3 linked regions of the Homo sapiens genome follow. The protein of the gene in region 1 purifies or fractionates together with the protein of each later gene. This does not show direct contact. Each region holds a gene or a part of one and is shown in the gene's direction. Other genes may lie near its edges.

Region 1 (7,577 bases):
TGAAAGTCTCAGAACTATAATATTCTGAAGCAAAACTAAGCTTAGAATCTTCAGCATGTTGAAACTCATCACTCATCTACCCTTTTGTTTATTCTCTATCCATCCATCCACCCAACCATCCATCCATTCATTCATTCAGGAAATATGTATTGAATGCTTACTTAAGCACTGTCTTAAGATCTGAGGATATAGTGGTGAACAAGGCAGGCAAGAATCCTGTCATAAGAGCTTATGTTTTAGCGCAGAAGACAGTAAACAACTAAATTACAAAAATAAATTTTCATAGAGGTAATACTGTAAATGATATTTAAAATGGTGTTGCGATGATAACTAGAATGTGGGGTGGGGAGAAGACTATGGAGCTGAGATTAAAATGATGGGAGCCAGCAATGGAGAGGTTGGGATAAGGGTCTTCAAGGCAGAGAAAACTGCAAAATACAAAGGTCACGCAACAGGGTTAAATTCCATATACAATCCTCTAGGGGAAGATTAGTGGTGCCTTTTTATATATTAATTTAGAAATAACTTTGAGGATTATATGAAAGCGGTATGTGACTACAGACTTGAAAATTTTAATTCGTTTTACTAGTAGTTTTCAGACTGGCACATGTAGTAAATAGATCCCTTGTTACTGATGAACTTTGTGTTGTTGTAGAAAGTGAGTTGGCCGAGCAAAAATAAAACTATAATTTTGAATTTGCAAAATTATGCTTTAAATATTTACTTGCTATTATTCCTTGTGAAATAATAGATGGATAAGGAAGTTACAGGAATATGGACATGATCTCTCGGTGATGGTTTTACTTACTGTGCCATTTAGGTGATGATGATTCATCCAGTATACTTTTTTATTTGTGGAGGAGACGGAGTCTTGCTCTGTGGCTCAGGCTGGAGTGCTGTGGCGGGATCTCAGCTCACTGCAACCTCCACCTCCCGGGTTCAAGCTATTCTCGTGTCTTAGCCTCACGAGTTGCTGGGATTACAGGCATGTGCCTCCATGCCAGCTAATTTTTGTATTTTTAGTAGAGATGGAGTTTCACCACATTGGCCAGGCTGATTTCGAACCCCTGACCTCAAGTGTTCCACCCGCCTCAGCCTCCCAAAGTGCTGGGATTCCAGGCATGAGCCACCGTCCCCGGCCCATCCAGTATATTTTTAACGTCTACTGTGTCTCATAACGAAGCAAGAAATACCAAGTCAGTGGCCATTATACAAAATATGGGAGCTCAAAGTATGAAATCGTATTCCTTGTTCTGCAGTTATTATGGAGAAGTTCAATAATAACACACTTTTATTGAAGCTCACTAAATTCATGACCGGTGTTAGTTATGTGGCATAGATGGAGTTCCCAATGTAGAAGTGAGACAGACACAAATAATGACCTCTACCACAATATTTTAAGTGCTATAATAATTATAATATTGCCACAGCGCTAAGGGAATAGAGTTCCCCTATATGTTATAAGCCTTTATCAGACTTTAAAAATTTAGCATCTAATGGGATTTTTGAAATTCAGAAATTAAGAATGATTAACACTTTCTACATTGAGGAGGCATTCTCAATAAAAACCCAAATAGTGTGAAATCATAGGGAACTCATTTCTCATTATTAACATTTTTTTAAATGTCATATCCTCTAATGATAATACCTCTACCCAATGGGGAAAAATTCCTTTCCTTATGATCTCCTTATAATATTATATTTCCTATGATAGTATATCCTTATGATGTTATTTTATAGTAAGTATCCTTAGATGCTTAGCAGAAACTGAGTGTAATTTTTATGAACCTGTAAAATGGGACTCAAGCTTGGAGTCTTAATTCAGGGATATACATTTACAGTATAGGAAAGGGGCAATTATGATTAGGTACGTCTAGAATGTGAAACTATCAGTTGTTAGTATAGTGAATGTGTTGACAATATTTTCCTCCCAGCCTTTTCCCTGAACTACTTATATAGTTATAGCAAGATGATGAAGTTAAGGAGCTGTGATGAGATGAGTTCTAGAAACAACTCCATCTATATTGAAAGTTAAGTTAAAAACTAGTCACTATCAGATAAATGTATTTAATGACTTTTTAAGATTAATCTACAACCTGAGAGTACCAGAAAGGAATAATTGGGAACTGGTGAATGCTTTCAACTGATTTGATTAATTAACATGCTAATTGGAGACTATATTGTTTTACATTTTAATAACTGTTTTCACTTATTTTTTTTAGAAAGGCTGATACTCTGATATCTTTCAATAGATTTGGGTTATGTATAATGGTATATATTAAATTTTATTTGCTGGATTTTGTGGAATTGAATATACATATCTTAACTAGGAAAATTAATAAGATGATTTTTGAATGCTTATCCTCTGGGTTAAGGAGGACTAGCTAATATTAATTCTAATGCCTGAATTGTAAATTTAAGCACCCCTGTCAATGACACTTTATGTAATTCAAGTTCATATTCTATTCAGGTCATGAGCACCAGCACTGTAATTTTTTTTTTAAATGAGGTTGAGGAAAATGTTGAGATATATACAACACAATTTTACTATATCAATTCTGTGATCAAGAATTTTTAAGTGTGTAGCACTCTGCACACATTTTTATATAACAAAATAAATATTCTATGCATTATTTTACTTAAATTTTTTTTGAAACATTGTCTAAAATGGTCTCTTTGTTTATTTTATAGGGTGGGCTGAAAAACAGCAAACATGAATGCACCCTGTCTTCACAAGAATATGTTCATGAATTACGATCGGGTATATCAGATGAGAAACTTCTTAATTGCCTAGAATCCCTCAGGGTTTCTTTAACCAGCAATCCGGTCAGGTAAGTCGTTCTTATCATTTCGGTATGATTCATACAATTTGTAGTGCATATAATTGTTTGGGAATATAATAAGTTTTGTTATTTAAACCTCAAGATTTCCTGACTAAAAATCTGATGTTAATAAAACAGCAGCATCTGATTGTGAAGTCGTAAACTTTTAAAAATATATTTAGTTAGTTGGATCTCTAGTAATGTACAATTTTAAGAATACAAATGTTAACATAGAGCCAGAAGTTAAATATCCACATTTACATGGAAATCTATTTGTGGGATCAGATAATTATTATATATTTATTTATAAAGCAAATTAAGTATATTTGCTCCATGATTTTATTCTTTTTTTTTTTTGTGAGACAGAGTCTTGCTCTGTTGCCCAGGCTGGAGTGCAGTGGCACGATCTTGGCTCACTGCAACCTCTGCCTCCCAGGTTCAAGCAATTCTTCTACCTCAGCCTCCTGAGTAGCTGGGACTACAGGCACGCACCATCATGCCTGGCTGATGTTTGTATTTTTAGTAGGGAAGGGGTTTCACCATATTGGCCAGGCTGGTCTCGAACTCTTGATCTCGTGATCCACCTGCCTTGGTCTTCTAAAGTGCTGGGATTACAGGTGTGAGCCACCGCGCCCGGCCGATTTTATTCTTTTAAAACTTGAAAGGTATATATAACTTTATGTTCTTCTATAAGTTTTAGATATACTCTTCACATATTTCTGTAATTTTGAGATAGCAAAAAGTGAATTATTTTAACCAGTAAAAGAAGTGAGAGCATTAATAAACTTCTCAAAACTCTACTAATTTAGGCTATTAACTAACTACAAAGGATTGTTATTAGGTTACTTGCCAATGGTGGATTCCAGTAACTGTGGTTCCTTTATTAAGCCTTTAAATCAATAACACCCAAAATAAAATGTTTTATAAAGAAAAATAAAATTTCAATAAAATATCAAAACATTCTTGGCCGGGCGTGGGGGCTCACACCTATAATCCCTGCACTTCAGGGGGCTGAGGCAAGTGGATCGCTTGAGTCCAGGAGTTCGAGACCAGCCTGGCCAACATGGTGAAACCCCGTCTCTACCAAAAATACAAAAAAGTCAGCCAGGTGTGGTGATGTGCGCCTGTGGTCCCAGGTATTCACGAGGCTGAGGTGGGAGGATCACCTCAGCCCGGGAGGTGGAGGTTGCAGTGAGCCCATATCCCGCCACTGCACTCCAACCTGGGAGACAGAGCGAGACCCTGTCTCCAAAAAAAAAAAAAAAAAAAAAAAACAAAAAAACAAAAATCCGGGATCTATTTATGTAACTACTAGAATCTTAAGTTCAGAATTTACTCCATAAGAGTATATAAAAAACTTACTGTGATTTTATCCATGTTTTTCCTAATATATAATAGGTCTAAGTCTTGTACTTTTCTGTCCTGTCCACAGAGCCTTGAAAATAATTTAGAGCTCAGTCATTCAGTTTGGATTTATGTATAAATTGAAATATATTAATTACTTATTTATAGTGCACTTGGCAAAATGCCCAGAAAATTACAATTTTAAAACAACAAAAAATTTTTTAAAAGCCAGTGTTAAGATGTGACTTATCTTAGAGTATGATAATCGTTGAAAGACGATTGTCTTGCCATTTCTTCCAAAATGCTCCTAGGTTTTTTGTTTTTTGTTTTTTGTTTTTTTTTTTGAGACGGAGTTTTGTTCTTGTCACCGAGGCTGGAGTGCAGTGGTGCTGTCTCGGTTCACTGCAACCTCTGCCTCCTGGGTTCAAGCGATTCTCCTGCCTCAGCCTCCCGAGTAGCTGGGATTACAAGCCTGCACCACCACGCCTGGCTAATTTTAGTATTTTTAGTAGAGACGGGATTTCACCACGTTGGCAGGCTAGTCTCGAACTCCTGACCTCAAGTAATCAACCTGCCTCAGCCTCCCAAAGTTCTGGGATTACAGGCGTGAGCCACTGCGCCCGGCCTGATGCTCCTAGTTTTAATGGTTTGAATGAACAGGGGACGTGAGTTCTTGAGAACAGTAACTACGGTGGTGCATTTTTCCCCCCTGCACGTAACGTACAGCACTCTACCGTTTTGCCAAGCACTTTGTGCTCCTAAAATTTCTGTTGCATTGTTGTTTGAATGAATGAATAAATGAGTCTTTTAAAAGTAATTGTAGAAGTTGCAGCATTAAGAAATAAAGAGGGGGGCTAGTAAAAATGCATTTTTATAGAGATGTTGGGAAAGGCTTGCTTGAAATTACACGTGGGACTTTTAATAGATAGGCGCTTTGACCAGCTAAGCAACAGGGCTCCCCTCGTGTGGGACTTTTAGAATGTAGCAACCACTGACACACAGGGAAGGATTATGCGATCAGGTGAGAAGGTGGCCGACCCTGACTGGCTGGAAGCAGATGCATTCTGGTAGTTGATTGGTCCACAGGTAGCGTGACGCTTGTCACGTCCTCAGCCTCCCAGCATTCAATCGTAGCCTTTCGGACAGCTCGAAGCCTTCTGTGGAGAGCTCGAAGCCTTCTGTGGAGAACTCAAAGCCGTCCGTGGAGCCCCAGACGAGCCAAAGCCCACCTTCTCCTCAGCCTGAGCTGTCTTGAAGATGAGTAAGAGTGGGTTTGGGAGCTATGGCAGCATTTCTGCTGCTGATGGAGCGAGTGGAGGCAGTGACCAACTGTGTGAGAGAGATGCAACTCCTGCTATTAAGACCCAAAGACCTAAGGTCCGAATTCAGGACGTTGTACCGTGTAATGTGAACCAGCTTCTCAGCTCTACTGTGTTTGACCCTGTGTTCAAGGTTAGGGGAATTATAGTTTCCCAGGTCTCCATCGTGGGGGTAATCAGAGGGGCAGAGAAGGCTTCAAATCACATTTGTTACAAAATTGATGATATGACCGCGAAACCAATCGAGGCCCGACAGTGGTTTGGTAGAGAGAAAGTCAAGCAGGTGACTCCATTGTCAGTCGGAGTATATGTCAAAGTGTTTGGTATCCTCAAATGTCCCACGGGAACAAAGAGCCTTGAGGTATTGAAAATTCATGTCCTAGAGGACATGAACGAGTTCACCGTGCATATTCTGGAAACGGTCAATGCACACATGATGCTGGATAAAGCCCGTCGTGATACCACTGTAGAAAGTGTGCCTGTGTCTCCATCAGAAGTGAATGATGCTGGGGATAACGATGAGAGTCACCGCAATTTCATCCAGGACGAAGTGCTGCGTTTGATTCATGAGTGTCCTCATCAGGAAGGGAAGAGCATCCATGAGCTCCGGGCTCAGCTCTGCGACCTTAGCGTCAAGGCCATCAAGGAAGCGATTGATTATCTGACCGTTGAGGGCCACATCTATCCCACTGTGGATCGGGAGCATTTTAAGTCTGCTGATTGAGGCAGGGAAAACATCCTTTCATTTTTCGAAGACCCTTGCATCCAGCTGTGAGTAATTTTGACCTGTTGACTTTTTAGGAAGTAGGACTAAAAAAAAAAATCTCAAGTGGCATTCTTTGTCAACTCGCTGCTTTTCTAACTGCTTTGAACTTTTCGGATTTTCTGTATTTGAAGCTCAGAGAGAGACGGTGATGGATAAATTGACAACTCTGTAGGATTTACTAGCAAGCTAATGGAAACATGATTTTCGGGGAAGAAAAACTACAGAAAATGTAGAAATTTATTATTTAATTGTGTTGGAGCTTCTTTTTCCAAAAGAAAAACTAGTTGCAGTCAGGGAGCCAGCGAAAAGACAAAAAAAAAAAAAAAAAAAAAAAAAGTCTTGCTTGTTTTTATGTTAGACTTATTTTCCGTGTTTGGATTTAGCTTATTATAATGATACTGTTATCTCTTGCTCAATATAGTATTTAGTATTTGATTAATTCAAATGAGCTGAAGATACTAATTTGTGAATTCTAATGCTCAGTTCAAACATTTATGTGTGATTTGCTCTTATTACTATGAATTTATGTTTTCTTAAAATAAGATTATACTGTGTTTAAATAAACCATTTTTGCCAGGTTATCTTTGAAATTTTTTAAAATGTGGTGAAGTTCAATGATTATTTCATATATGATGTGGTATTTGGATGAAATTACAATTTATTGTAGTTGTATGGTAAATGGATGCCAGAGTTTCTGTAAGTTTGATGTGCTGGTGTATTATTTATTTTACTAAATGCTCTGTTTTATGTATAAAAAGGTAATTTTTAGGACGTTAGGGAAACAGCTCATAGGAATATGAAACTTACTGAGTTTAACACAAATTTATTCAAATGTTTTATTAAAGTAGTTTACAAAATCTTAACTTTCCTGTGTGATTTTTTTTTCTAAGTACATTTGAAAAAGCCTTTTTGTTTTATATCCTTGAGGATTAATAGTTTCACTTATCCAGAATTTTTTCTTTTCTATATATAAAATACCCAGAACATATGCTATAGCCTAGTTCTAACAATACATTTTAGTGTAGATTATATAAATTATGTGAGACTTTTAAATAATTGACCATTAACGAAAGCCCTCAGTTACCTATACACTAAAGATGGTGTCTTTCAAGATGCTAATTTTTTTACATTAGAGGAAATAAAAAACATATACTTTTTAATGAATATATGTTATATTTTATATATGTATATTCATATATAATATACAAATAGAAGAACATTATTTGTCAAATTGAATCATGAAAACTGCAACAAAAAAAAAATCTCTTAAATGGAACATTGCCAGTACTCCGTACTTTCAGGAAAACTTTCAGAAAATGGCCTGTG
Region 2 (7,605 bases), on another chromosome or scaffold:
AAATAATGTAATAAATACATATGTTAAATTAGGTTAGAATTTCATTATGATCTCCTCACTAGATCTTCTCTCCGTGGCAGGATGCAGACTCATCTGAGCGTATCATTGCTCCCATGCGCTGGGGCTTGGTCCCTTCTTGGTTCAAAGAAAGTGATCCTTCCAAGCTGCAGTTCAATACTACCAACTGTCGTAGTGATACCGTAATGGAGAAACGGTCATTTAAGGTAGGTGGCTGGTAGCTATTAGTGCCCCGTATACCTCAGAAATAAGGTTCCAAAGGGTGTTTCCATCCTAGCCTACAGAGGACAACCAAAAATAAATAAATAACACAAAAAAGAATGTTCCCAGTTGTTAATGTGGAATGCTATTTTGTTACTACATAACAAACCACACCAGACTTAGTAGTGTGAAACAAAATGATAAACATTATCTCTCATATTCTCTGGGTTGACTGGGCTCATCTGGGCAGTTTTCACTTGGAAGTTCTCATGTTGCAGTTAGATGGCAGCTGAGGCTGGATGTCCAAGATGACTTCTTCACCCACATCTGACCCTTCAGCTGGGATGACTAGAACAACTAGAAGGCTTTCCATATGCCTAGCTCGAGGGTGTCAGGGTAGCCAGGCTTCTGTTACGGTGACTCATTTACCCCAGAGCTCATGATCCAACAGAGCAGGACAGAAGATATAAGCCTTTGTCTTACAGCATCACTTAATCTTGGCAGTCATACAGCATTACTTATGCTGTATTCTTTTATTGTTATTGTTTAATTTTTTTTTTTAAATAGAGACAAGGTCTGGCTATGTTGCCCAGGCTGGTCTCAAACTCCTGGGCTCAAGTGATCCACCTGTCTGGGCCTCCCAAAGTACTGGGATTACAGGTGTGAGCTATCACGCCCGGCCTACTTCTGTTGCATTCTATGGGTTACACAGAGCCAGCCCAAATTCAGTGTGGGAGGTGTCTACATAGGGTGTGAATACTGGGAAGCATGCTTCATTGGGGAGGCACCTTTGAAGACTAGCTATGACAAGTACCTATTTGTTAGAAAAGAGGTGATTGCTTTTATGTACATTATTTAATCTTTTCAACATCTATGTGAGTTGTGACTTTCTTTATACATAAGAAAAGAGAGTGGCCGGGCACGGTGGCTCACACCTATAATCCCAGCACTTTGGGAGGCCAAGATGGGCGGATCACGAGGTCAGGAGATCGAGACCATCCTGGCTAACACGGTGAAACCCCGTCTCTACTAAAAATACAAAAAATTAGCCGGGCGTGGTGGCGGACGCCTGTAGTCCCAGCTACTCGGGAAGCTGAGGCAGGAGAATGGCTTAAGTAAACCCAGGAGGTGGAGCTTGCAGTGAGCCGAGATCACGCCACTGCACTCCAGCCTGGGCGACAGAGCAAGACTCCGTCTCAAAAAAAAAAAAAAAAAGAAAAGAGAGGTACAGAGAAATTAAATAACTGTTTTAAGGTCATACATTGGCAGACCTCAGATTTTATGTATTTATTTGTTTGTTTATTTATTTTGAGATGGAGTCTCATACTTTTGCCCAGGCTGGAGTGCAGTGGCATGATCTTGGCTCACTGCCACCTCTGCCTCCAAGTTCAAGTGATTCTCGTGCTTTAGCCTCCCAGGTAGCAGGGACTACAGGTGTGCACTACCACGCCCAGCTGATTTTTATATTTTTAGTAGAGATGGGCTTTCACCTTGTTAGCCAGGCTGGTCTCGAACTCCTGACCTCAAGTGATCCTCCCATCTCGGCCGCCCAAAGTGTTGGGATTACAGCCGTGAGCCACCCGCCTGGCCCAAACCTCAGATTTTAATTCAAGTTCTCCAAGTAATGGCAGCCTGTGAAACATGATTGTATCACTAAGACCATATCTTGCTCACATTTTCCCTCAGGTGCCTCTGGGAAAGGGAAGACGCTGTGTCGTTTTAGCAGATGGATTCTATGAGTGGCAGCGATGTCAGGGAACAAACCAGAGGCAGCCATACTTCATCTATTTTCCTCAAATCAAGACAGAGAAGGTATCATTATCAGCATTCACAATATATATTTGGAAAGGCACAGGGAAACAAATTAATCCAAAGGACATTTTTTTCTTCCCCATAGTTTTATTTATTTATTTTAAAATAACAGCTTTGGCCCAGTGCGGTGGCTCACGCCTGTGATCCCAGCACTTTGGGAGCCCAAGACGGGAAGATTGCTTGAGCCTAGGAGTTTGAGACCAGCCTGGGCAACATGGTGAAACCCCGTCTCTACAAACAATACAAAACTAGCTGGGCATGGTGGTGTGTGCCTGTAGTCCCAGCTACTCGGAAGGCTGAGGTGGGAGGATCACTTGAACCCACGAGATAGAGGCTGCAATGAGCTATGATCACACCACTGCACTGGGCGACAGAGCAAGACTCTGTCAAAATAAAATAAAATAAAGTGAAATGAAATGAAATGAGCTCATTGAGAGATAATTCACCTTAAAATTCACCTTTTTAAAATGTGCAATTCAGGAATGTTTTAGTATGTTCAAAGTATGCAATTATTACCTCTATTTTTAGAATATTTTTATCACTCTAGAAGGAAACTACATATCCATTAGCAATCACTCTTTATTCTCCACTATGCCCAGCCCCTGTCAAACACGAATCTACTTTCCATCTCTGGATTTGCCTATTTTGGACATTTCATAAAAACAGAATCATAGAATATGTGGTCTTTTGTGACTGGCTTCTTTGATTTAGCATAATGTTTTCAAGATTCATCCATGTTTGGCATGGATCAGCACTTCATTCCTTTTTGTAAGAACAGACCACATTTTGTTAATTCATTCATCAGTTGATAGACACTTGGATTGTTTCCACTTCTTGGTTATTATGAATAATGCTGCTATGAACATTCATGTACAAGTTTTGCATGGATTTGTTTTCATCTCTCTTGGATAGATGCCTAGGAGTGGAATTGCTAGGTCATATTACAACTCTACGTTTAACATTTCCTTCATAAAACTTTCACTGTGGCTGGGCGCAGTGGTTCAGGCCAGGCACGGTTGCTCATGCCTGTAATCCCAGCACTTTGGGAGGCCAGAGCAGGTGGATTACTTGAGCTCAGGAGTTCAAGACCAATCTGGGCAACATGGCGAAAACCCATCTCTACCAAAAATACAAAAAATTAGCTGGGCGTGGTCCCAGCTACTTGGGAGGCTGAGGTGGGAAGATGACTTGAGCCCAGGAGGTGGAGGTTGCAGTGAGCTGAGGTCGTGCTACTGTACTCCAGCCTGAGTGACAGAGTGAGACCCCATCTCAAAAATGAAACAAAAACCCTTTCACTGTAAGACATAATTTGAACTGTTCATGTTAAAACATTATCAGGAGATTGAAAACAAATCTGACATGCCAACATCATGTTTTATTTTTAATTAGATTATTTAGTCTGACACTGCTAAAGCACCTGAGTTCTTAGCAGTTTGCTTGTTAAAATTGGGAATTGTTTGTTCACCTGTCATCTCATTTTGGGGACTGGAAATAGTGTTACCGAGTAAAAGGGACTTGCTACCCAATGTGCTAGAAGCCAATACCATGATACTGAGTAGCTGGTCCCAGCTACTTGGCAGGCTGAGGTGGAATGATAGCTTGAGCCTGGGGTGGGGAGTGGAGGGTGCAGTGAGCCGAGATTGCACCACTGCACTCCAGCCTGGGTAACAGAGAAAAGTTTTTTTTTTTCTTCTTTTTTTTTTTTTGAGACAGAGTCTCTCTCTGTTGCCCAGGCTGGAGTGCAGTGGCGTGATCTCGGCTCACTGCAGCCTCTGCCTCTCGGGTTCAAGCGATTCTCCTGCCTCAGCCTCCCAAGTAGCTGGGACTACAGGCGTGTGCCACCAGGCCCGGCTAATTTTTTGTATTTTTAGTAGAGACGCGGTGTTAGCCAGAATGGTCTCAATCTCCTGACCTTGTGATCCACCCGCCTCGGCCTCCCAAAGTGCTGGGATTACAGGCGTGAGCCACTGCGCCTGGCCGAGAAAAGTTTTTTATTTCAAGTCGACTAACAAGAAGACAGGAGTCCAGCTCAACTCTGTCTCCCTAGCTGGCTTTAAGGAGTACTTTTATTAAAAAAATGTTTAGGGAGTGGATTCTGGGATTAGTAGGTGATTGGTGGAAGGAAAGGGGAGGCCTGGAAAGTCTTCAGGTATGTGCAGTTATCTCTTCCTGCCTCCATATAGGTCTCATGTGCAAATTCAGGGGGAGTTAGTGTGAAATGTGGTGGAAATTCAGGCTGTGATATAAGCAAGCTTGTTTTGCATATACTCTAGTCAGTTATTGGTTCCAACCAATTCAGCCAGTTTTGTTATCTTACAAGCGGAGGGAGTTTCACTGTTTCAGCAAGTTATTTTCTTATGTGCTATCCTGTAAGCCCAAGAATTTAGTCATTGGTGTTTTTGTTTGTTTGTTTGTTTTTTAACTCTTTGGGGCAGTTTCAGTAGTCAAGAGAGTTTGCCTCACCCTCAGATAATTCCCTATCAGTGATGGGTGCACCAAAATCTCAGAAATCACCACTAAAGAATTTATTCATGTAACCAGACACCACCTGTTCCCCAGAAACCTATTGAAATAAAACATAAATTAAAAAAGAAAATTCCCAGTCTAGCCAGTCTAGTAACACACAAATGATTTGGTACAAGACAAGATTAATTTATAAAACATCTATCAATTATAATAGCAAATATTAAGCACTTACTACTAGTCAGTTACTCTTTCTAGGAACTTAATGTGTATTAGCTTAATATACATTAATTCTTTTTTTTTTTTTTTTTTTTTTTTTTGAGACAGAGTTTCACTCTTGTTGCCCAGGATGGAGTGCAATGGTGTGGTCTTAGCTCACTGCAACCTCCACCTCCTGGGTTCAAGCAATTCTGCCTCGGCCGCCTGAATAGCCGGGATTACAGGTGCGTGCCACCATGTCTGGCTAATTTTTGTATTTTTAGTAGAGACAGGGTTTCACCATGTTAGCCAGGCTGGTCTCTAACTCCTGACCTCAGGTGATCCGCCTGCCTCAGCACCCCCTAAGTGCTGGGATTACAGGCATGAGCTACTGCGCCTGGACTTGAACTTAATTTTTACACTACAGATAGTTGGATTTTCCTTTTTGATTCAGTCTGACAATCATTCTTTTAATTTGTGTTTAGAACATTTAATTTAATGTAATTATTGATGTGATTGGGTTAAAATCCATTGTTTTGCTAGTTTTCTATTTGTTCCATCAACTCTTTGTTCCTTTTCTCCTGATCTTTCTGTTTTGGGAATAATCTTTTATAATTGCATTTCATCTCTATTATTGGCTTATTATTTTTGCCTCTCAAAAAATGTCTTTAGGCCGGGCGCAGTGGCTTACAACTCTAATCCCAGCACTTTGGGAGGCTAAGGCGGGCGGATCATGAGGTCAGGAGATCAAGACCATCGTGGCTAACAGTAGAGAAACCCTGTCTCTACTAAAAATACAAAAAAAAAATTAGCCTGGTGCAGTGGTGGGTGCCTGTAGTCCCAGCTACTTGGGAGGCTGAGGCAGGAGAATGGTATGAACCCGGGAGGCGGAGCTTGCAGTGAGCCAAGATTGCGCCACTGTGCTCCAGCCTGGGCAACAGAGTGAGACTCCGTCTCAAAAAAAATAATAAATAAATAAATGTTTTTAGTAGTTGCCCTACAGCTTACAGCATACATTTTAAGTTAATAACATTCTGTCTTTATACACTACATTACTATTGAAAATACCTTACAACAGTATTCTCCCAGTTCCTCCTGTCTTTTGGGCTACTGTTATGCATTTTATTTTTACATATACTATAAACTTACAATACATTGCTATTTTACTGTAGATGGTCAATTATGTTTTAGAGTGGTAAAAAATAAGAAAAGTCTTTGTACACGTACCTTCATTTTAGCCATTTCCATGGATCTTCACTTATTTGTATAGATCCAGTTTTCTCTCTGGTATTACAGCCCTTCTGCCTGAAGGACTTTAATTTTTCTTGTAGTGTGGGTCTGCTGGTAATAAATTCTGATTTTTTTTTTGTCTGAAAAAGTATCTATTTCTTTATTTTAAAAAATCATCAGGGCCGGGCACAGTGGCTCATGCCTGTAATCCCAGCACTTCGGGAGGCCGAGGTGGGCGGATCACCAGGTCAGGAAATCGAGACCATCTTGGCTAACACGGTGAAACCCCATCTCTACTAAAAACACACAAAAAATTAGCCGGGCGTGGTGGCGGGCACCTGTAGTCCCAGCTACTTGGGAGGCTGAGGCAGGAGAATGGCATGAACCCAGGAGGCAGAGCTTGCAGTGAACCGAGATGGCGCCACTGCACTCCAGCCTGGGCGACAGAGTGAGACTCCATCTCAAAAAAAAAAAAAAAAAAATTCATGCTTTTTATTGATATATAATTCACATATAATAAAATTCACCCTTTTAAAATGTACAGTGGTTTTTAGTATATTCAAAACCTTGGCCAGGCACAGTGGCTCTAAAATTAACCATGCATGGTGGCTCGTGCCTGTGGTCCCAGCTACTTGGGAGTCTGACGTGGGAAGATCACTTGAGCTTAGGAGGTCGAAGTTGCAGTGAGCCGAGATCACACCACTACACTCCAGCCTAGGTGACACAGTGAGACTCTATCAAAAAAAAAAACAAAAAAAACCCCACAAAATGTTGTGCAGCCATCATCACTAATTCCAGAATGCTGTTATCAACCCCAAATAAAACCACACCCATTAGTAGTCACTTTCCATACCTCCCTGTCTTTAACCCCTGGCAACCACTGTCTGGTATTTTTCACCGTATATAAGATTCTGGGTCAGTGGTGTTTTGTTTTCTTTCAGTACTTTAAAAAAATACACTTCATTGTCTCTGGCTCTCATAGTTTTTTTGAGAAGTCTAGTGTATAACTGTCTTTTTTCTTTTGTATGTAATGCATAAATGTGTGCTGCTCTCACCACCTTCCCCTCCACCTCCCTCCACCCCTGCTTTTAAGATTTTCTCTTAGGGCAGCTGTTTGAATACATTGTGTGTATGTGTTTTAGCCTATTCTCTTTGCTGCTTGGATCTGCAGTTTGATATCTTTCATAATTTATGGAAATTTCTTGGCTTTTTCCTCTTCAAATATTTCTTCTGCCCCATTTTCTCTTTCTGGGATTCTAATGACACATGTGTTAGATGATTTAATTGTACCATCGTTCTTGGATATTCTCTCCATTTTTCTTTCTTTTTTTCTTCTCTGTTTCAGTTTAGATACTTTTCACTGACCGTTTTTTTTCTTTTTTTGAGATGAAGTCTCGCTCTGTCACCCAAGCTGGAGTACAGTGGTGCAATCTTGGCTCACTGCAACCCCTACTTCCCAGGTTCAAACAATTCTGCCTCAGCCTCCCAAATAGCTGGGATTACAGGCATGCACCACCATGCCCAGCTAATTTTTTTTGTATTTTTAGTAGAGACGGGGTTTGATAAGGTTGGCCAGGTGGGTCTTGAACGCCTGACCTCAAGTGATCTGCCTGCCTTGGCCTCCCAGAGTATTGGGATTACAGGCATGAGCCTCTGCGCCTGGCCATTATTGACCTATCTTTA
Region 3 (8,386 bases), on another chromosome or scaffold:
AAAGTCTCACCTTTCCTTCAGAACCCACCCTCTTTTTCAAGTCATACCCCTTGCTCCTTGACACCCTGTCTTATTTAGTATCTCATTCAACAAATATCATTGAAAGCTAGATACTGTTCCAGGCATTGGTTACAGAGCAGGAAACAAAATACACAAAGCCCTGGCTCACTTGGAGCTTACAGTCTATTGGAGAGAGTCAGATCTCCTAAAAATTAAACAAATATATGTTAAGTTGTAATTAGTACTCTGGAAAAAAATAAAGCAGAGTAAGAGGCTACAAGTGATAATGGGAGTGATGTTATTTATATCAAGGAAGGCACCACTGCTACTAAGAACAAAGACCTGAAGAAAGTCAGGGATCAATCTTGTTAGCTGGAAGAAGAGTAGACCAGGTAGAGAGAACAGAAGCCTGTAGGGAGAAGAGTGACTGGTATGTTTGAGACAAAGTGGAAAGAGGCCAGAGTGCCTAACAGGAGTAAGCAAAGGGAAAAATAGTAGCAGATGAAATCAAAGCACTGGGGTAAGAAGCAGATCATATAGAGCCTGGTCAAGCCACAGCATTTGAGATGGGGAGCCACTGGAACAAAAATCTAACATGATCTAACTTTCATTTTATTTATTTATTTTTAAATTTATCTTATTTTTTAGACAGGGTCTTACCCTATTGCCCACACTGGAGTGAAGCAGGGGAATTGCTTGAAACCCGGAGGCAGAGGTTGCAGTGAGCTGAGATCACACCACTGCACTCCATCTGTAAAAATAAAGTAATTCTAGATAACGTGATGTCTTATCAGAAAATACTATAGCATGCTTTTTTTAAAGAACTTTTTTTTTCCTTTTGAGAAAGGGTCTTACTCTATCACCCAGGCTGGAGTACAGTGGCATGATCACAGCTCACAGCAGCCTTGACCTCTCAGGCTCAAGTGATAAATTATACAGCTAATTTTTGCACTTTTTGTAGAGTCGGGTTTCGCCATGTTGACCAGGCTGGTCTTGAACTCCTGGGCTCAAGCAATCCTCCTGCCTGAAGTTCTGACTGCTGAGATTACAGGCATGAGCCCCCACACCTACCCTAAAGGACATTTTAAAATCATAACTAGAATATCATTATTTTAAACCTAACTAGAATACCATTATAATATCTAATAAATAATTCCCTAAAATCATCCAATTTCCAGTCCATATCCACATATCCCCATTTATTGCTGGCTTGTTCAAACCAGCATCCAAACATTGCATTTGGCTGTTAGGCTTCAAATGTCTCTTTTACTCTAAAACAGTCCTAACAATTTTTTTTTTACATAATAGTATGAAGAGAGTAGGCCAGTTGTCCTGTCGAATATTAATTTGTATTTTTCATACTATGTGAGCCTGAATATCTTTTCCATGCACTTATTTATCAAATGCAAACTGTTTATTAATATCTTTCATCCACTTATCTATAGAGGTTTTGGTTTTAATTATGAAAATAAATTTGTTGGTTTCTTCCAGGCTTTTTTTGTTTTTGTTTTTCAGACAGAGTCTCGCTCTCGTCACCTAGGCTGGAGTGCAGTGGTGCGATCTTGGCTCACTGCAACCTCCGCCTCCCCAGTTCAAGCTTCTCCTGCCTCAGCCTCCTGAGTAGCTAGGATTACAGGCACCCACCACCATGCCCAGCTAATTTTGTGCTAGAGAGGGGGTTTCACCATGTTGGCCAGGCTGGTCTCGAACTCCTCACCTCAGGTGATCCGCCTGCCTTGGCCTCCCAAAGAGGTGGGATTACAGGCATGAGCCACCGCACCCAGCCGGTTTCTTCCAGTTATTGGTGACATGCTTCAGTACTATTTTAGTTACACTTGTTCTGTATTTGACTATAAAGAAGTTATATCTTCACAATATATTTTCAGTAATTCTCACTCTGACCACCATAATAACTAAAAAAGAAAAAGAATCAATAAAAACTTTAAAAATACATTTTTAAAAATGTGTGTGGGATGGTAACTACTGTCATGAAACAGAATACATTAGCCTAGTAGATAACAACATAATTTGGAGTCACCCAGATCTGGCCCTGCCTTTTAGGAACTGTATATTATGAGCTGAATTGTGTCACCTCAAAATGTATGTATTTGAAGAACTCTCATTATCTCAGAATCTGCCTGTATTTGGAGATAGGACATGTAAAGGGGTAATTAAGATAAAATAAGGTCATACGGGTTGGGAATAATCCAATATCACTGATGTCCTTATAAGAAAAGGAGATTAAGGGCCAGGCACCGTGGCTCACGCCTATAATCCCAGCATTTTGGGAGGCTGAGGCGGGTGGATCACTTGAGGTCAGGAGTTTGAGACCAGCCTGGCCAACATGGTGAAACCCTGTCTCTAATAAAAATACAAAAATTAGCCAGGTGTGGTAGCCCACGCCTATAGTCCCAGCTACTCAGGGGACTGAGGCAGGAGAATCGCTCAAGAACCTGGGAGGTGGAGGTTGCAGTGAGCCGAGATCTTGCCACTGCACTCCAGCCTGGGCAACAGAGCAAGACTCTGTCTCAAAAAATAAATAAATAAATAAAATAAAGGAGATTAGGACATAGATGCACAGAGAGGAAAGACAGCATCCATCTACAAGCCAAGGAGAGAGGGAGGCAGGCCTTAGAAGAAATCAGCCATGTCAAGACCTTTACCTTGGGCCTCTAGCCGCCAGAATTACGACAATGTATGTAGTTATAGCAGCCCTAGCAATACACTGTGTGATCTTGAATAAATTAAATTTTTCTAAAGCTCAGTTTCCTCAACTATAAATGGAGATAATAACATATGCCTCATGAGGTTGTTGTGAGAATTAAATAATGTATGTAAAGCTCATAGCATAGTAAGAACTAAATAAATTCTGGCTATTATTCTTATGAAGATTAAATGAGGTTATGCATGTAAAGCATTAGCTCAGCCTCTAGTACACAAGAAAGTTCTACTAAGTATTAGCTATTTTTAATAAATTTTCATTTCATAAAGGCTTATATTTTTCCTATCTCCAAAGTATTTCCTTTTAGACCTAGTCTAATTTATTTGTGTCATAATTAAGTCAGATGTAACAGGCTTTGTACCGCTGAAACAGGTTAAGCAATCCTATCCAACAACATTTATTGAGCACTTACATTTTGTTAGATTTATTTCCAACTACTTGATATGCTTTGGTGTTATTGTAAATGCTACCTTATCCAAAAATTTTATTTATAGTTGTTTGAAGCTCTTTTATAAGCATGGAATTTATTTTCACACGCTATTTTCTATCAGTCTTGCTAGGCTTTGTATTAAGGTAAAATTTTTATCCTGTAGTTTCTTCTAGCTTTTAAAATATTCATAATCAAATTACATGCAAATAATGAGATTTTGGGTTTTTTCTTTCTAAACTTTACATCTTTTGATGAACAAAAATTAAAATGTATCAATTTTTTTTTCTTTGTTTTTTTCAGACGGAGTCTCACTCTGTCACCCAGGCTGGAGTTCAGTGGCGGGATCTCGGCTCACTGCAACCTCCGCCTCCCGGGTTCAAGCGACTCTCGTGCCTCAGCCTCCCAAGTAGCTGGGATTACAGGCGCCCGCGACCACGCCTGGCTAATTTTTCACTTTTTTTTTTTTTTTTTTTGTAATAGAGACGAGGTTTCGCTATTTTGCTCAGGTTGCTCTATAACAGATACTATGCTATCCTAACAATATGTTTCTAAATGATATTAGTGCCAAAACCAGGATTACCCAGTGATTTTGTTAATACAGGCTTATTGAATCGGAGGGTCTGGGGTGGGGAATTTGCTTAAGTATGCAGTCCCCATACTCGGTGATTCTCATGAAGCCAAACATTTGGGCGCCCCTCACCTGATGTCACCAAGAACCAGAAGACCAATTAGAATTTTCGTGGGCTTCCTGCCCCATGGTTCCCTCTGTTCCCAAAGGGTTTCTGCAGTTTCACGGAGCTTTTCACATTCCACTCGGTTTTTTTTTTTTTGAGACTCGCTCTGTCGCCCAGGCTGGAATGCAGTGGCGCGATCTCGGCTCACTGCAAGCTCCGCCTCCCGGGTTCACGCCATTCTGCTTCAGCCTCCCAAGTAGCTGGGATTATAGGCGCCCGCCACCACGCCCGGCTAATGGCTAATTTTTTGTATTTTTTTTTTTTAGTAGAGATGGGGGGGGGTTTCACCGTGTTAGCCTGGATGGTCTCGACCTCCTGACCTTGTGATCCGCCCGCCTCGGCCTCCCAAAGTGCTGGGATTATAGGCGTGAACCACCGCGCCCGGCCCGGTTTCGTTTTGTTTTTTTTTTTTTTTTTTTTTTCCAAAAATGGGCGGAGGAGAGTAGTCTGAATTGGGTTATGAGGTCCCCTGCGGGGTACCTCACCTCAGCCATTGAACTCACTTCGCTGGCCGTGAGTCTGTTCCAAGCTCCGGCAAAGGAGGCATCCGCCGGGCCCCTCCCCGAAGGGCGGGGTCCACGGCATCTCCTGCCCAGTCTGACCTCGCGCGGAGCCCCGTTCTCTGGGAACTCACCTCCCCGAAGCTCAGGGAGAGCCCTGTTAGGGCCGCCTCTGGCCCTAGTCTCAGACCTTCCCAAGGGACATGGGAGTGGAGTGACAGGACGCACTCAGCTCGTGGCCCCACTGATGAGCTTCCCTCCGCCCTATGGGAAAAAGTGGTCTCATACAGAACTTATAAGATTCCCAAATCCAAAGACATTTCACGTTTATGGTGATTTCCCAGAACACATAGCGACATGCAAATATTGCAGGGCGCCACTCCCCTGTCCCTCACAGCCATCTTCCTGCCAGGGCGCACGCGCGCTGGGTGTTCCCGCCTAGTGACACTGGGCCCGCGATTCCTTGGAGCGGGTTGATGACGTCAGCGTTCGAATTCCATGGCGGCGCGGCGGCGACGGAGCACCGGCGGCGGCAGGGCGAGAGGTTCGGAGCTCAATATCGCGGGACGGCATGCGGGGGGCGGGCAGTCAGAAAGGAACGATGCCACCTACTGTGACCCCCTTCCCCTTCCAGCTCCCTATAACCTGCACTTGGCTACCAAACCAGTTGGGGTGCTAAATTTTGTAAATTTCGGTTTTCAGAGCTTTGGGGATTACATAATTGTGCATAAAGCCTTGCGGAGCTGTAACAACTAATGTGCCAGTACTGTTGTTAATACCTAATGTCATCCAATTTACAAAAAGTAATTGTAAGGCACACCATTATTTTATACACAACAAAGGATAAGCACTGAAAATGGTGAACTGTGATTCACTGCTTATGTCATCCATTGTAAGATGCATCCCAGTTCCAGAGAGTAAAATGCGAGTCTTAGACCTATTGAGATACGGTATTATGTGTATAATGTTCTTAAATGCATAGGTGCACCCTATAAATTAGGTTCTATTGTACTTCTCTAGAAGTACAGTATTGTACAATATTCTAATATTGGAGTAAGTGAAGTAGGAAGAGATCAAATACTTCTCCAAGTTTCCACAGAGAAAAGCAGCAGAGCTAGGCTCTAAATTAGGCACAGACCCTTGAGCACTTAACTAACCTTTATCCCATACGGCCTCATGTATGAGGTGGGTATTTGGGGGACATTGGGACACAAGTAAAACAGATAAGCAGGCCTCAATCTATGAGCTTACAAGACTCCTGGGACTCCCTTTTATTTTGTTTTATTTCATTTGGCTAGAATAGCAATTTAGGAAGAATTACACAGACTGTTACACAAAAGTAGTGTGGGACAGTTGTTATTGCCTCTGTAAACTTAGAAAATTATCTTAAACCGGCGGGGTGAGGTGGCTCACGCCTGTAATCCCTTGGGAGGCCGAGGAGGGCAGATCACTTGAGGTCACGAGTTCGAGACCAGCCTGGCCAACATGGTGAAACCCTGTCTCTACTAAAAATACAAAAATTAACTGGGCATGGTGGTGCACGCCTGTAATCCCAGCTACTCAGGAGGCTGAGGCACGAGAATCACTTGAACCCAGGAGGCGGAGGTTGCAGTGAGCCAAGATCGCACCACTGCAGTCCAGCCTGGGCGAGAGAGTGAGACTCCACCTCAAAACAAAAAAAGAGAGAAAATTATCTTAAACCATTTCTTTAAAAGATTTTTTTCAATCTTTAAAATCTACACGTATTCGGGTGTGTACTCATTCTTTGCTAATTTCCAAATTCTGTAGCATTAAATGAAAGCAAAAGAGTTAATAATGGCAACACGGCTCCAGAAGACTCTTCCCCTGCCAAGAAAACTCGTAGATGCCAGAGACAGGAGTCGAAAAAGATGCCTGTGGCTGGAGGAAAAGCTAATAAGGACAGGACAGAAGACAAGCAAGATGGTATGCCAGGAAGGTCATGGGCCAGCAAAAGGGTCTCTGGTAGGAGTGGATCTGGGGATGATATCTTGTTATTTCAACTCCTATTTCGTCCTTCTTTCAGGGAATAATTAATTTCTCTATCCTTTGGGCATACCACAGCACTAATCTACTGCCTTGAATCTTCATTTTCATGTATTTGAGATGGATTGGGGTCTAAGGAAAGACCAGGATTGGTTGGGCGGGCAAAGTTAATCCTGACAAGTTTCTGTTTTACCACAACAGCTGTTTTTGATTCCCATAAAGTAGTACCTATCTGTCTTTCCTCAGAATCTGTGAAGGCCTTGCTGTTAAAGGGCAAAGCTCCTGTGGACCCAGAGTGTACAGCCAAGGTGGGGAAGGTAAGAGACTCTGGAACCGATCTTCAGTCCATGGATATCTCAGAGAGCATCCTTTGTTATAAGGACTCCTGTCTGGGATGCTGTTAGTACTCATTTTAGGAATCCTCTCCAAAATATGATGAGTGAGTAGTTTTCTCTAATGGCAAGAGATAGGAGTGGTAGGGCTTGGGGTTAATAATCAGGGTGTTTTTTAACATGGTGTGTTAGACCATTCTTGCATTGCTGTAAAGAAATACCTGAGACTAGGTATTTTATAAGAAAAGAGGTTCCTAGAGGCTGTACAGGAAGCATAGCAGTATCTGCTCCTCAGGAGACCTTAGGAAACTTTTACTCATGGCAGAAGGTGAAGCGGGAATAGGCACGTCACATGGCAAAAGCAGGGGAGAGAGAGAGAGACAGAGAGAAAGGGAGAGAGAGAGATTGGAGAAGGTGTCACAGAGAGAGAAAGAGAGAATGGGGAGGTGTCACACGCTTTTAAACTACCAAATCTTGTGTGAATTCACTCACTATCAAGAGGACAGCAGCAAGACAGTGGTGCTAAACCATTCATGAGAAATCCACTTCCATGATTGAATCACTTCCCACCAGGCCCCACCTCCAGTACTGAGGATTACAATTCAGCATGAGATTTGGAAGGAGACAAATATACAAACTATATCACATGCGTACCTTTTGTGGTTGCCATCAGCCTTCTACACCTCATTCTCTTTTTAAACCAGAAAATGGTATCATTGTTAAGGGAAAACTGTTTTCTTGTTCTAATGAGAAACTGTACCCTGGAATGGCATGAGTTACTGATGAATGGGGAAAAAAGAAGGCTACCTCTGGAATAAGTTTTCTTTAACTCAGTTAGAATCTTTTTTTTTTTTTTTTTTTTTTTTGAGATAGAGTCTCACTCGGTCACCCAGGCTGGAGTGCAGTGGTGTGATCTCAGCTCACTGCATCCTCCACTTCCTAGGTTCAAGTAATTCTCTTGCCTCAGCCTCCCAAGTAGCTGTGATTACAGGTGCCCACCACCACGCCCAGCCTGGGCTAATTTTTATATTTTTAGTAGAGACGGGGCTTCACCATGTTGGCCAAGCTGGTCTCGAATGCCTGACCTCAAGTGATCTGCCCACCTTAGCCTCCCGAAATGCTGGGATTGCAGGCATGAGCCACCATGCGCAGCCTAACTCAGAATCTTTTGTATAGTTAAAAAAAAGGAAGCATGTTTTCATTTATAGTAAGGTTACACCCAGGTTACTGGTAGAACATAGGTTTGCAATTCTTTCCTTGGGAGATGAATGTTGATGTTGCTGTAGAATGATGACTTGAGCCATAAGAAAATTTAGAGCCTCATTTAGGATGTCAGGGCTGAACCTATACTAATGTTGATTTTTTCTCTCTCTCCCTTTCTAGGCTCATGTGTATTGTGAAGGAAATGATGTCTATGATGTCATGCTAAATCAGGTAAGAGGCAAGAAGAGGTGGCACCATTATATTTATGAGACCATCTTCTTGATAATTATTGATGATAGCATCACAGTGTTCAGATCTTTAAAGTCCCTTTTTTTTTTTTTTTTAAATTTTGTTTTTTCTTTTTGAAATGGAGTCTCACTTCATCTCTCAGGCTGGAATACAGTGGCACAATCTCGGCTTACTGTAACCTCTGCCTCCCAGGTTCAAGCAATTCTCCTGCC

What was found. Proteins that work in one complex are often made in the same cells at the same time.
Region 2: the proteins of RPA4 (region 1) and HMCES purify together in Homo sapiens (affinity purification with mass spectrometry; 3 studies listed by BioGRID and IntAct, with this or other methods). This does not show direct contact.
Region 3: the proteins of RPA4 (region 1) and PARP2 purify together in Homo sapiens (affinity purification with mass spectrometry; 3 studies listed by BioGRID and IntAct, with this or other methods). This does not show direct contact.

The regions. Positions count from the first base shown.
Region 1 is NC_000023.11:96,878,888-96,886,464, forward strand, and holds RPA4 (replication protein A 30 kDa subunit), read left to right. Parts: upstream 1-5,020; 5' UTR 5,021-5,423; coding exon 5,424-6,209; 3' UTR 6,210-6,580; downstream 6,581-7,577. Other genes in the region: DIAPH2 (protein diaphanous homolog 2), read left to right, coding at 2,692-2,831.
Region 2 is NC_000003.12:129,288,774-129,296,378, forward strand, and holds part of HMCES (abasic site processing protein HMCES), read left to right. Parts: intron 1-80; coding exon 81-224; intron 225-1,905; coding exon 1,906-2,031; intron 2,032-7,605.
Region 3 is NC_000014.9:20,338,758-20,347,143, forward strand, and holds the start of PARP2 (poly [ADP-ribose] polymerase 2), read left to right. Parts: upstream 1-4,877; 5' UTR 4,878-4,884; coding exon 4,885-4,930; intron 4,931-6,174; coding exon 6,175-6,330; coding exon of another isoform or gene 6,331-6,369; intron 6,370-6,636; coding exon 6,637-6,707; intron 6,708-8,105; coding exon 8,106-8,156; intron 8,157-8,386. UniProt on the Homo sapiens protein: Poly-ADP-ribosyltransferase that mediates poly-ADP-ribosylation of proteins and plays a key role in DNA repair.